Regions from separate parts of the Homo sapiens genome. Here region 2 is linked to region 1. The links come from fine-mapping of genetic effects on plasma protein levels. A gene starts in region 1. The other region holds a variant in brackets. All regions are shown on one strand. Distances are between the middles of the regions.

Region 1 (3,998 bases):
GTGTTCAGGGAGGCCAGATAATCTCCTCCCCGCGCCGGAGCCCCTGTTCCTCATTTCTAGCATTTTAAAAAAGGTCAAGAATACAGTGAATCCGGCTGGGGGCTGCCGGCTGGGTGACGCGCCTCTGGCTAGACCGAATGGCACAGGCTGAGCCCGGGGGTGCGGACCGGTGGGCACGGAGAAGGGTCCCTCGGCGCGGACTCGACTGCAGGAGCCGCGGCGCCGGGGGTGGGGGGCGTGTGCCGCTCGCGAGGGGGCCGGAGGACTTGACAGATCGCAGCGAAAGAAAACATTAAACCAAAACAAAACCCACCGATTCCCCACGTCGTTCAGCAAAGACATCGTGGGTGGAGCCAGGAGGGAGCGATTGAGTAGAATTCCTCGCGGCCGCCTCCGCCCGCCCACCCCGCGCCCCCGGCCCTCGGCCCCCTGCCCTGCCAGCCCGCCGGGCTCGGCCCGCAGCGGAGGTCAGGGAGCAGCGAGCGCCTCCTCCCACCCGGGCTTCCCGAGTACTCGGCTCTGCTGCTCCGTAGTAAACAAAGTGTCGCCGGCGCCTCCACGCTGGTTTGCTTCCTAGCAATCAAAACACTGAGAAGGCGAGAGAATCACAGAAACACTCGAGAATTACCAGAAAATAATAGAGATCCAAAAAAAAAAAAAGGAGGTGAGTGTGTGAAAGAGAAAAACACCCCACTACCCCCCACCAGCCCACCGCCGCCTCCCCGTGGAAAACCGGGCCCCACCCAGCCCGGCGCCCACTGGCTGCCCGGGCGGCGGTGCCGCATGCCCATTGGCCGCGCGGGCTGTCGGTCAGGGGCGGGCCGGCGCGCGCGCCGCCGCGGGCGGGGGGCGGCGGCAGATCCCGTAAGTCGGGCGGCCTGGTAGTCGCAGCAGCCGCTGCCGCAGCCGCCACATTCAACAGGCAGCAGCGCAGCGGGCGCGCCGCTGGGGAGAGCAAGCGGCCCGCGGCGTCCGTCCGTCCTTCCGTCCGCGGCCCTGTCAGCTGGAGCGCGGCGCAGGCTCTGCCCCGGCCCGGCGGCTCTGGCCGGCCGTCCAGTCCGTGCGGCGGACCCCGAGGAGCCTCGATGTGGATGGCCCCGCGAAGTTAAGTTCTGGGCTCGCGCTTCCACTCCGCCGCGCCTTCCTCCCAGTTTCCGTCCGCTCGCCGCACCGGCTTCGTTCCCCCAAATCTCGGACCGTCCCTTCGCGCCCCCTCCCCGTCCGCCCCCAGTGCTGCGTTCTCCCCCTCTTGGCTCTCCTGCGGCTGGGGGAGGGGCGGGGGTCACCATGGCCGAGGCGCCTCAGGTGGTGGAGATCGACCCGGACTTCGAGCCGCTGCCCCGGCCGCGCTCGTGCACCTGGCCGCTGCCCAGGCCGGAGTTTAGCCAGTCCAACTCGGCCACCTCCAGCCCGGCGCCGTCGGGCAGCGCGGCTGCCAACCCCGACGCCGCGGCGGGCCTGCCCTCGGCCTCGGCTGCCGCTGTCAGCGCCGACTTCATGAGCAACCTGAGCTTGCTGGAGGAGAGCGAGGACTTCCCGCAGGCGCCCGGCTCCGTGGCGGCGGCGGTGGCGGCGGCGGCCGCCGCGGCCGCCACCGGGGGGCTGTGCGGGGACTTCCAGGGCCCGGAGGCGGGCTGCCTGCACCCAGCGCCACCGCAGCCCCCGCCGCCCGGGCCGCTGTCGCAGCACCCGCCGGTGCCCCCCGCCGCCGCTGGGCCGCTCGCGGGGCAGCCGCGCAAGAGCAGCTCGTCCCGCCGCAACGCGTGGGGCAACCTGTCCTACGCCGACCTCATCACCAAGGCCATCGAGAGCTCGGCGGAGAAGCGGCTCACGCTGTCGCAGATCTACGAGTGGATGGTCAAGAGCGTGCCCTACTTCAAGGATAAGGGTGACAGCAACAGCTCGGCGGGCTGGAAGGTGAGTGGACTCGGCGCGCGGCCGGACCTTGGGGGCGCGGTGGGTCAGGCGAGGGCGCAGCTGTGCAGGTTTGCTCGGCCTGAAGGTGCGGAGCAGGAGGGCAGCGCGTTCCCAGGAGGGCGGGCGAGAAGCGGTGGTCGCGGTGGCCTCGCCCGGGTCCGGTCGGGGACGGCAGTAGGTGTGCGTGCGCGCCAGTCAGGAGTTCGCGTGGGACGCGGTAAGGGGCTCGTTGGGGAACTAAGTAAAGAAAGTGCGCCAAGAAGTGGACGTCAGAGCGAGGCCGAAAAGTTTGCCAGTGAAAGGAGAAAGGGGTTCGCTGGGAGCGGCAACCCCCGGCCCGCGCCGACTGCTTCGGCTGCCCCTTCCCTCCCGGACCTCCGCGGGGGGAGGGCGGGTTCTCTCCGGCCGCGCCGCGGAGCTGTTTCCGCCGGGCGCGGCGGGGGAGGGCGCGGCGAGGGGCCCCGGAGCCTCGCTGCCCCGGGACCGGGCTGCAGGTGGAGGGGACAGGCAGGGCGCGACCGGCCGGGGACGGTGCAGGGCCTGCCGGGCAGTTTCTGGAGGCGGTGCGCATTTTGCTTTGTTTTGGTTTTCTCCGGAGTGGCCTCGAGTGCCGGGGGCCCGGCGTCCCGAGCCCGAGGTGGTGCCTCCGACACGTGCGAAGGGGCGGCCACCGCCTGCGGAGCGCCGGCGCCTGGCCGCGCGGGGCGAGCTAAAGTTCAAGTGTGACCCTCGGCGGGGGCGGGCGCGGGCGGTGGCGGTGGCGGTGGCGGTGGCGTGGGAGGGGCCCCGGGCGCAGGAAGCCCGCGCCTTTAAAGGGCCAGCGCGTCGGGGCCGGGCGCCGTGGGGCCAGCGTTTCTCCATGCGGGGAAGCGCCCGAACTTGGTCTTGCCCCTGGTAGGAGGCTTTTAGTTAGAAACACAGAGGCTGCCCTGAGGGGCCGGGGGCTGGGATGTGTGAGTCTTTTCCTGCCTTGCCACCCTATTCTTGAGCATGGAGGACCAGGCGGGGGGGCTTTGCGACCAATGTTTTGAGGGAGTCGGAGTGGCGGTGCGCGTCGAGGGAGCGGTGCCTTGAAGGAGGATTTTTGCCATTTTTGCCTTTCAGAGCGTGGCCAGGAGAGACTTAGCGTGGGGGCAGGCACTTCCCGACTCCGAGGAGAAGGCCCGGGGGCCCTCGGCTCCGGGGAGGCTTCCCGGGGGCGGGGTCCAGTCGTGGCGCGGCCTCCCCAAGCTGACAGTTTCTCACTGTCACCGGTGGCGGAATTGCTGTAAAGGCTGTCTAGTTGAGCTAAACACCTCCCTCCCCTCCTCCGAGACGGAGTCTCGCTCTGTCGCCAGGCTGGAGTACCGTGGCGCGATCTCGGCTCACTGCAACCTCCGACTCTCTGGTTCAAGCGATTCTCCTGTCTCAGCCTCCCGAGTAGCTGGGATTACAGGCACGAGCCACCACGTCGAGCTAATTTTTGTGTTTTTAGTAGAGACCGGGTTTCACCATGTTGGCCAGGATGTTCTGGATCTCCTGACCTCGTGATCGGCCCGCCTCGGCCTCCCAAAGTGCTGGGATTACAGGCGTGAGCCACCGTTCCCGGCCGAGCTAAACACCTTTTTAAAACATACCTTTCTTCGCCTCTCATATTGGACTCCACGGCATAATAAAGATTGGTCTTTGCTGCGCAGTTGTTAACACCAAGGTTATTTTACACACAGTGTCATCCCTGTGGTTAATGCGTGTCAAAAGGGTTAAGTTACTCACACCTTATTGAAGTTCCTTTAGAAGGAATTCAAGATTCATTTTATTTTTTCCAAAGTGTGTTTTAGAGTAAAGGTATCACTTATCGCTTCATTACCAGGCATTACATGCAATTTTACCAAGTGTTTCAAAAAAGTAAAGTGCCTTCTTACCGTTAAGTTCAGCATATATTCTATTAAGTCACAAAATCGAAATTGTCTGCCAAATCTTGTTTTACTTAACATTTGAATTTAAGTACTTGACTTACTTGCTCATCTATCAATTCCACTTCAGCTGTTACAGAGTATTAGCCATTTAAAAAAAAAATCCTCCCCCCTTTTTTTGCATTCAAA
Region 2 (8,528 bases), 56 kb after region 1:
CTGCTAGAGGAGACGAAGACGATGAGAAGCAAGCACACAGCAAACTGTTTGGCTTTTAGATGCATCCTGGCCTGGCCGGGTGGACTTGCACAGAACTGCTGGTGCCAGGTTAGTTCCCTGGGACTTTTCCAACATTTGTCTCTGTATTGAGTTTTGTCCTTATTCCTGAAATAGAGTAGCCACTGAAATCAGGAACCAGAACTTCTGGAAAATACCTTTGGAAACCACTGTGTTGCATGGTAGAAGAAAGGCAACTGCCAGTAGTTAAAATACCGGGTTGAGTGCTAGTTTTTTCACCCTTTATTTTTTCTTTTTAAGGAGAGGTCTGATTTACTTTCTTCTGTCTGTTAAAGCTCTTCACAGGTTCTTAGAAAAACAAGCCATTTAATGGTACCAGCCGTGAGGATCCAACTTCAGTTCCATGAAAGCTGCCTGGTAGTTCTGGTCACAGGGTCCTGATGGGAGACCGTGTAACTGCTGCTAGGCAGTCAGCTGGAGGGCTCTGGTGTGGCTCACGCTTGTGTTTGTTCAAGTGACCTGAATGTGCTTCCTCTTTGGGGACCTGTTTCAAATGCACATGCTGACGCCGTAATCATCCACTAAACCAAGTGAGAGTCAGGAAATTCAAATTCGTAGTGCCTGTGACTTGGCCACACTCCCTGTACACATAAAACAAGGTCTTAAATCAGAGAAACTACCATCTAGATTAACACTCAAACTGCAGATGGGGACCGGAGCTGCTCTTGGTGTGGGAACTGCAACTTTGAAGTTCCAGACTTTGATGTGATTAACATTTCAGACTTAAAGTCCTTTCTGTGTGGTAACTTTTTTTTTTTTAAACACCAAACTGAAAATAAAAATTGATTAGATTAGGGGTGTCGGAGAAGCAGATTGTAAAGGGAGGAGCCCTCTTGCAAACCACATGTAACTATGTCACATCCTTATGTGCCTCAGGAAGAGAGAGATGACAGACTAGTGACCTTTCACCATATCTCTTTTACTTATAGCTGTTCTTACAGAGACCCTGCCCTCCAACACACACACCACCTCCAAAAAGAGGACACTTTTGACTTTGCTATCTCTTATTGACCAAGTGATAATCCTGATGGAGAGATGGGGTTTACAGGCATGAGGTGTTCTTTTTTACCCAGATTTCAAGGTTCAAATACTGGAGATCATCTTACAGCCTTCTTCAAATTGTGGCTGATTAAAGTTTAATTCTTCACCTCTGTCTTGCTGGTGAAAGGAATACGAGGGCAGGGAAAGTGGAGTTTGTGGGTCATTCCTCTTTTAAAACGTTGCCATTAAAATTGTAGATAAACCGATACACAGTAGTCCTCCTTTATAGGAGGGAGATAGTTCCAGGACCCACAGTGAGTGCCTGAAACTGGATAGTATCAGACCCTGTGTATACTACGTTTTTCCCTATACCTACATACCTATGATAGTTATACATTAGGCAGAGTAAGAGATTAACAACAATAACTAATAATAAAACAGACCAATAATAACAGTATAATGTAATAAAAGATAGATGAATGTGGTTTCTCTCTCTCTCAAAATATCTTACTGTGTTGTACTGCAGGTAACTCAAAAAGGTGGAAAGTGAAAGCTCAGGGAAGGACTACTGTACATGGAATTGACATCAAGCAAACAAGAAATGTTGTGCCTGGGATGATAAAATTTCTTGGCCACTGAAATTGTTGGGCCAGCCTTCTTTTTGAAAGAAATCTCCTTAGGCATGCTTGCGAACGCACGTGTGTGTATACGTACATATGTGTAACACACACACAAGTCTCTTCTGTTTTCTTAGGTTAAAAACCTGAGGTGTCATCCTGATAATTTCATGGAGACCCTGTAACATTTTTGCCATCATACATGGCACTTTATCTTCGTAGCTGTGTCTGTGATATACTGTCTGCCTGCTGTGCTCTGTCCATTTGAGCTTTCTAGAACCCTGTAGGAGAGGTGGGGAAGCCTGGATTTTGTTGGGGAGATCCAAGGTCTCTATGGCATGACAGCTGATAAATGGAAGATGGATAACTGTAACCCTTGAGTCATTGTGTTTTCTGCTGGCCCTTTCAGTCTACTGACCTTGTTTTCAGTAGGCCTGTAAAAAGGCAGGGCAAAACCTAGCCCTCTAGTAGAGTTTTTATTTTTATTTTTATTTGTTTGTTTATTTATTTATTGAGACAGGGTCTCACTGTGTCTCCCACGCTGGAGTGCAGTGGCGTGATCTTGGCTCAACCCCCGCCTCCTGGGCTCAAACAAACCTCCCACCTCAGCCTCCTCAGTGGCTGAGACTAAAGGCATGCACCACCACACATGGCTCATTTTTTGTATTTTCAGTAGAGACGGGGTTTTGCCATGTTGCCCAGGGTAGTTTTGAACTCCTGGGCTCAAGTGATCCACTCAACTTGGCCTCCCACTGTGCTGGGATTTACAGGCGTGAGCCACTGTGCCCAGCCTAGGTTTTAGGGTTTTTACATTTTACTGTTGACAGTACTGTAGCTGTGATGGGAGGAGGGAAATAACAGGGCTCGTGAGAGAGTGCTGAGCACCGTCCTCTCTCCCAAACACAGCTTCCGTGTGTTTTAGATGTGTTCTTTCCCTATCATGCCATCCATGTTTAGGGGCACAAGAAGAGTCAGGTGAGGAGGGAATGGGCATTTAAGTCCACGTGAACCCCTCTAGCAGGGTTCCCCTCTGCATCACTGTTTCAAGGAGATGGGATAGAATTATGGCGTAACTGTTTTAATGTACGAAATCAGCAGAAGCGATGAATATTTTTATCTTCAAATTTGTATTACACACTGAGGACCTTATATATGATTCTAAATTTATTGGTCATATCCTGAAATACACACTGTGTGTACCTAGTAACCTTGTATTGGTTACAGTGGTGCTGTCTTAAGTTTGTTTATTTGTTTGTTTGTTTTAAATAATGTCTGAACCCACCATAGGGGTAGCACTCTAGCACAGTTTTGGGTAACAAATAAGATTGCATTCTGACATGGTGTCATAAATCATATCTAAAAGCCGTGAGGTCACATAGAACTTGTTTATGTAACAGGGTAGAACAAAACTCATTGTTCTGAGAATATATTGCTCACTCATTTTATCCTCAGTCACGATGAGTTTTACAGCCTATGTGCAGTATTGATGCCACTGAATAAGCATTTATTTTTGATGAAGATACAACTTTTCTCCTCACGTTCAGTTGAGAGTTTGCAACAAGTAAGACTTTGCATTCTGGAATTTATGTAGATGTATGTGTATAGATACATGTGGTTTTTAAGGCCTGGCAACCTTAATGAATACTGGTAGAAGATTTTGGCTGTCTTTTAACAGCATTACCATGTGGTTGACCATTTAAATAAGCAGCAGTTTATCTTGATGTAGTGAATGCATTTAATTGGTTATCCTGGCAAAGCAGGGTATTCGTTGGTTACAAGCATAATTTTCTGAGTTTATATTATTTTTCCTTCTAGATATTTGTGAGCTATTGTTTTTATAGCCTATATTGAAACATGCTTTTTCTTTTTAAAATGGATTGTAGTATAGAGCTTTGTTAATAAAAAAATTTAAAATAAAAATGGTAAGGCAGAATGACTTAGTTATTTTTATATTTTCCTGTAAAAACAGCCTCAGTTAAGTGAGCCACAATGAGCCATGATGTATTTCCTCCATCAGGATGGAAAATAAGCCATTTATTATTTCAGGTCTGACTCACAGTGAACCTGCTGACACTGGGATGTTTTAAAATCATAATCATAAGGAACAGGTTAGGGCAGAAACTTGGACGCTGGGCCTAGGATTACCTGCTTATTACAATGTTTTACAACTTGGATGCTTTAGGTTTTCTGGCACAATGTCCTAAACCTCACACACTAAACACCCCCTTGTTGTACAATTATTGCTTGCTGGTTTTAGATGGTGCCAAATAGACAGATGCCTCATCATAATTACCATTTTTTAAAATTTCACTGTTATAGACATATATAAATAGGTTGTTATCTCCTCTCCCTTCCCTCAG[T/A]ACAGTATGCTCATGCTTCCACAAAAAGCACCCCGGATGTCCTTAGTTAATAAAAACGGGCAGCTGAGGAGTGAGGGTGTGGCAGGTGGATGCAGCGTGTCCTCAGTGTCGCAGGGTACATAATATTAAATTACATGTGATTGCAAAGGAAAGCAGTTACGTCGAATACAGTTGTGAAAATTGTCGTAGGGTAATAGATGTGCTTCTTTATCAATACATTAAATAATATTTAGTGGCGGGTCACCATAATTTTGAGGTGGAGATGAATAAACAATATTTTGAGTTTTTGACAGCAACTGTAATGTGAAGGCATCCGATTTCTATTGGTGTCAAAGTCACAGGTACTGCCAATACTGTGATGTGTTGCCTACATTCGTAATTGGAAAAAATGCTGAATTTTAATGAGCGGCTCATAAAAATGTGTTTTTTCCTATCCAAGGTCATGAATCCCTTGAGTTCTGTCCATGGGCTCCAGGTTAAAATCCTGGGCCTTGAGGAATTTTTTTCCCCCCCACCCTGAAGAATTTCTTTAGGCGTGAGTTTGAATATATGCAAATAAAGTTTTCCTTGAAGACAGTGCTATTCTACTGGCCTTGGTTCAAAAATAGGAAGACATGTTTAACTCTTGTTTTTATAGTCAATCCTAATTATCTACAGTCCAGAATTGAAGAAATTAGCCTTCATTTTCCTGAGAAAATCACATACTCCTTTGACATCAAAAGAAGGATGCACTGAAACCTGTATTTTCTATGGTTTTGAGTAAACAGACTTACATTTACAAATACTCATGCATAATTCTATACACATTCTAGGCATATTAATACAGTGTAGACTGATATAAAAAATTACATCCTTTCCAAAGTAAGTGTATGCCTCTCCTTTGTAAAACAGAAGGAAGAATAAAGAAAGCAAACAAATTAACCTTGTCATGGCAAGCAGAAGAAAAAAGAAGCAGTAGGCTCCCAGTTTGGTATTCTACCCTCCAGATGACTTTATTGCATAATATGTTTTGTCATCCAAACGTAATTTTATTTCAGGTCTACTGAGCTTCAAAAATTACAAATGATAACGATAATTAATTAAATTTGAGTAGTTTTAATGACATTGAGCTGTGTGCTGGAATGGGAAAATGGCACAATTGAAGGACATTTACATTGAATGTCATTGTTTAAAGTTACCCTGATTTGGAGGCCCATTAAAAATACCAAAAGTCATTGTATTTTAACATTTATTTCAGCTGAAGGTTTTAAAACAGCTTTTAAAAATCTTTAGTACCTGCAGTGAAGATACACGTACCCCCTTCCCACCTATCTCTAGGATCCATCATATGAGCTGAAAATTATCTTTAATAAATTAACCATGATCATGACAAATCTTACTTTACTGCTTTGAAGGAAAAAGGAGGCATTTTGTGACGTGACACTGAAAGGATAACATTTGTTGCCACCCTCTTATATAATACCTACCTTAAGAATCAGGAAAAGCCTTGGAGATGACACTTCAATTTGTAGACAATGTTCTTTTCTGAAGAGAATCTGAAAAAAAGATAGCCTGGAGAAATCAATAAAATGTAAAATAGAAAAAGAATAAGGTGATTGCTACTTTAACAACAAGCTAATACTCTGAGGGGTTACATTAGTGACAGACAAGGAGAAATATGCATTTTTGACTTGAAGGATAACACATTGTATCAGTTAGCTTTTGCTCCATAACAAATAACCCCAAAAGTCTCAGTGGCATGCAACTGTATGTATTTATTTCTTGCTCACATGTATGAGATTCCCTGCAGCAGCCTACTCCATGTGTCTCACTTTGAGGCCTTGGCTGGAAGGTGAGCGACTAGGGTAAGTTCTTCTCATGGTAGTGTCATGTGCAAGAGGGCAAGCCTGACTGTATGAGTATGTTTCAAGTCTCTGCCAGCATCAGATTCCCTAGCATCCCATTAGCCATAGCATCTCTTGAATCAAGAAGGAGAAAAGTGTACTTTACCGACAAGAGGCCATAGAAATACAATTACCAGGGAGTGAAGAATTGGGACCAATAATTCTGTCCTACCACAAATGCTAAAAATGTTAGCAGCTGAGGGTAGCTTTTGGTTATGAGATTATATGGTGGTGTCTTATTGCCTTTGGCTTTTGTCATTTCCTCTGCCCCAAGAAACACTAGTTCAGTTTTTCATATGGATGTTGGACCGAATGTAACACACCATGAGAGACATGTTACTAACAGCTGGGTAAGGGACAAGAAAGAGGGTACGTGAATTGAGGTAAGACTTAAGAGATCTGGGTTCAAAATCTGTTTCAGCAGTGTACCAATTGGGGGAACCCCAGGCAATTCATGTAACCTGTTTCTGTCATGGGCCCCTTGTTCTGTAAAATGAAGATACTGGGCTAGCCCGTCTCCTTAGTTCTTTCTACCACTAGAATTGAGGTTTGATTTCTTATCTGTAGATAACAGGTTTCATTTATTGGCACCTCCATTCTCACCTTTGTGTTGGTGTAGGCTCAAGGCAACAGAATGACTTTAGTAGGCAAATGGGGTTAAGTAAAAACATTGAGTGTATAGAGATGTATTACCTATGTGTACAATACTAAATAGTGTGGAGTAATGACTGTCGAATGCTGTGTTTGGGGTTATAGAATCTCCCCTATAGGCTTTAAGCTCCCTGATAACTTTATTTCCCTCCCTCCCTCCCACCCATCTAGTACAGTGCCTGACTTATAGTAAAGCACTCTAGGAACAAATGGTTGAAGGAAGAAACCCCAAGTGGGAAATTAGTAGGGGAACAATTCCCTAGCCTGAAAGTGTATCCAAGAAGAATGATGTTTTTCTGGTGCTTATATTTATTGCCTAGGATGGACAGCTTTCTGCTTCAGAGGATTGGGAGTGTTCATCCAAGCAAGATTGACATAGACATTTGATGCTGTGTCCCCAGCATTTTGCTAGGCGCTCCGGGTGTAGCACGAGGAAGCATGGTTGCAACGCCCTCCGGTTTTTGTCTGGAAGACAGATGTGTAAACAGAATTGCACTGTGCCTTCTGTACCAGAGGCCCAACCAAGGCATAGAAGAGCCACGTGGGAGACATAGGGAGATCTCACTTGGAAGAAACCTGGGTCTGGTCTTGATTGAGGAGTGGGGAGAAGTTGGGCAGATGTGCGGGCTTATAGAGAGCTTTCTGGGAAGGGTGAAGTGGCACAATATTTTTTGGGGGCCTAACTACAAAGTCTGAAGGGAAAGGCAAAGTGAGACAAAGCTTCAGAGGCAGACAGGGTTAGATCTGAGAGCATTGCATGATATGACTTTGGTCTTTACCTGATAGAAAAAGGAAGTTACTGAGGAATTTAAAGCAGGGTCAGGGATGTGATGAGATAGGAATGGCAATGAGGAAGTTGGATGTGGGAGTTGCAGGGACCTGCAGGCTGCACTATGACTTGGGGAGGATGGAGGGACAGCAGAGGGGCATGAGATGGGCTGACATCTGGCAAGTAGTGTCTAGTATGGACAATCACTCTTACAGCCCTCCTCAGTCGCTTTTGGCACCCTGCCTCTCCCCCAGCCCCACCATAGAAAATAACATGCTGTGCTGTCACTTAAAACCCCCTTTTCATGGCCGGGCGCGGTGGCTTACACCTGGAATCCTGGCATTTTGGGAGGCCGAGGCGGGCGGATCACTTGAGGTCAGGAGTTTGAGGCCAGCCTGGCCAACATGGTGAAACCCCATCTCTACTAAAAATACAAAAATTAGCCAGGTGTGGTGGTGGCACGTGCCTGTAATCCCAGCTACTCAGGAGGCTGAGACAGGAGAATCACTTGAATCTAGGAGGCAGAGGTTGCAGTGAGCTAAGATTGCGCCACTGCACTCCAGCCTGGGTGACAGAGTGAGACTCCATCTCTAAAGAAAAGAAGAAAGAAAGAAAAAGAAAGAAAGAAACCAACCAACCATGTTGCTGGTCCCTGAAGTAGTCCGTTTTAGGCTATATAGCTCTGGGTGATGAGAGAGATATGGTGTAGTCTGTGTTGAAGAGTGATAGAAACTCAGTTTGGAAAACTGTCAACTTGATAGGTTTAAAACCACCTTGGTCACTAAAGTGGTGGAGGTTATTTTGAGCTTCAATTTTTACATTTGCTTTATCTTGCTAGATAACATTTGGAAAAATTGTTATTCTACAGTATTTTGGTTAAGTAGAACAAGCCTTTCAGTAAATTCCACTACATTATTGTTATAATTTTTTTTTTGTCATCCCAGATTAGTTGATATTTGCATTATTACTTGGTCGATGTACGTTTTCTAGATTATTAGGCTCATACCTACTACTTTTCAATACTTGTCAGCTGATAAGAGGTATCTCTTAGTGGTTAGTGTCAGCAGCATTACTGGTATAATTTGTGGCCTTCTTTCACACACTAGTTTTCCACACCTCCAAGCAGGTTCAGGGCTTACGTAGCTACTGATTCATACGTACTGCTGGCAACTGACTAGAGAGGTGGAAA

Alleles and levels. Positions count from the first base shown, and alleles are read on the strand shown. Strength reflects both the effect of a copy and how common the allele is.
For the plasma level of the protein whose gene starts at base 859 in region 1, T is the low allele of the variant in region 2 and A is the other (moderate association).

Evidence for each region. A credible set is the group of variants that fine-mapping cannot tell apart. PIP is the posterior inclusion probability: the model's chance that the variant is causal. Protein levels are from antibody-based Olink assays in UK Biobank. Linkage for the fine-mapping came from a reference panel and not from the study's own genotypes, which makes the PIPs less certain.
Region 2: its variant is the best candidate, but not a certain one, in a credible set for the plasma level of the FOXO1 protein (UK Biobank, PIP 0.54).

The regions. Positions count from the first base shown.
Region 1 is chr13:40,663,502-40,667,499 of GRCh38, reverse strand. It overlaps FOXO1 (forkhead box O1), which reads left to right and starts at 859. Exons shown (of 3, transcript NM_002015.4): 1 at 859-1,917. The coding sequence starts at 1,288. RefSeq lists an enhancer at 1-20 and silencers at 671-1,200, 1,431-1,570, 1,661-1,710, 2,231-2,740, 3,041-3,120.
Region 2 is chr13:40,605,730-40,614,257 of GRCh38, reverse strand. The region is part of intron 1 of FOXO1 (forkhead box O1); the gene reads left to right. Among named protein-coding and RNA genes, the nearest start is that of FOXO1, 57 kb to the left of the region's middle. RefSeq lists an enhancer at 913-962. The variant T/A (reference allele first, on the strand shown) is at 4,037.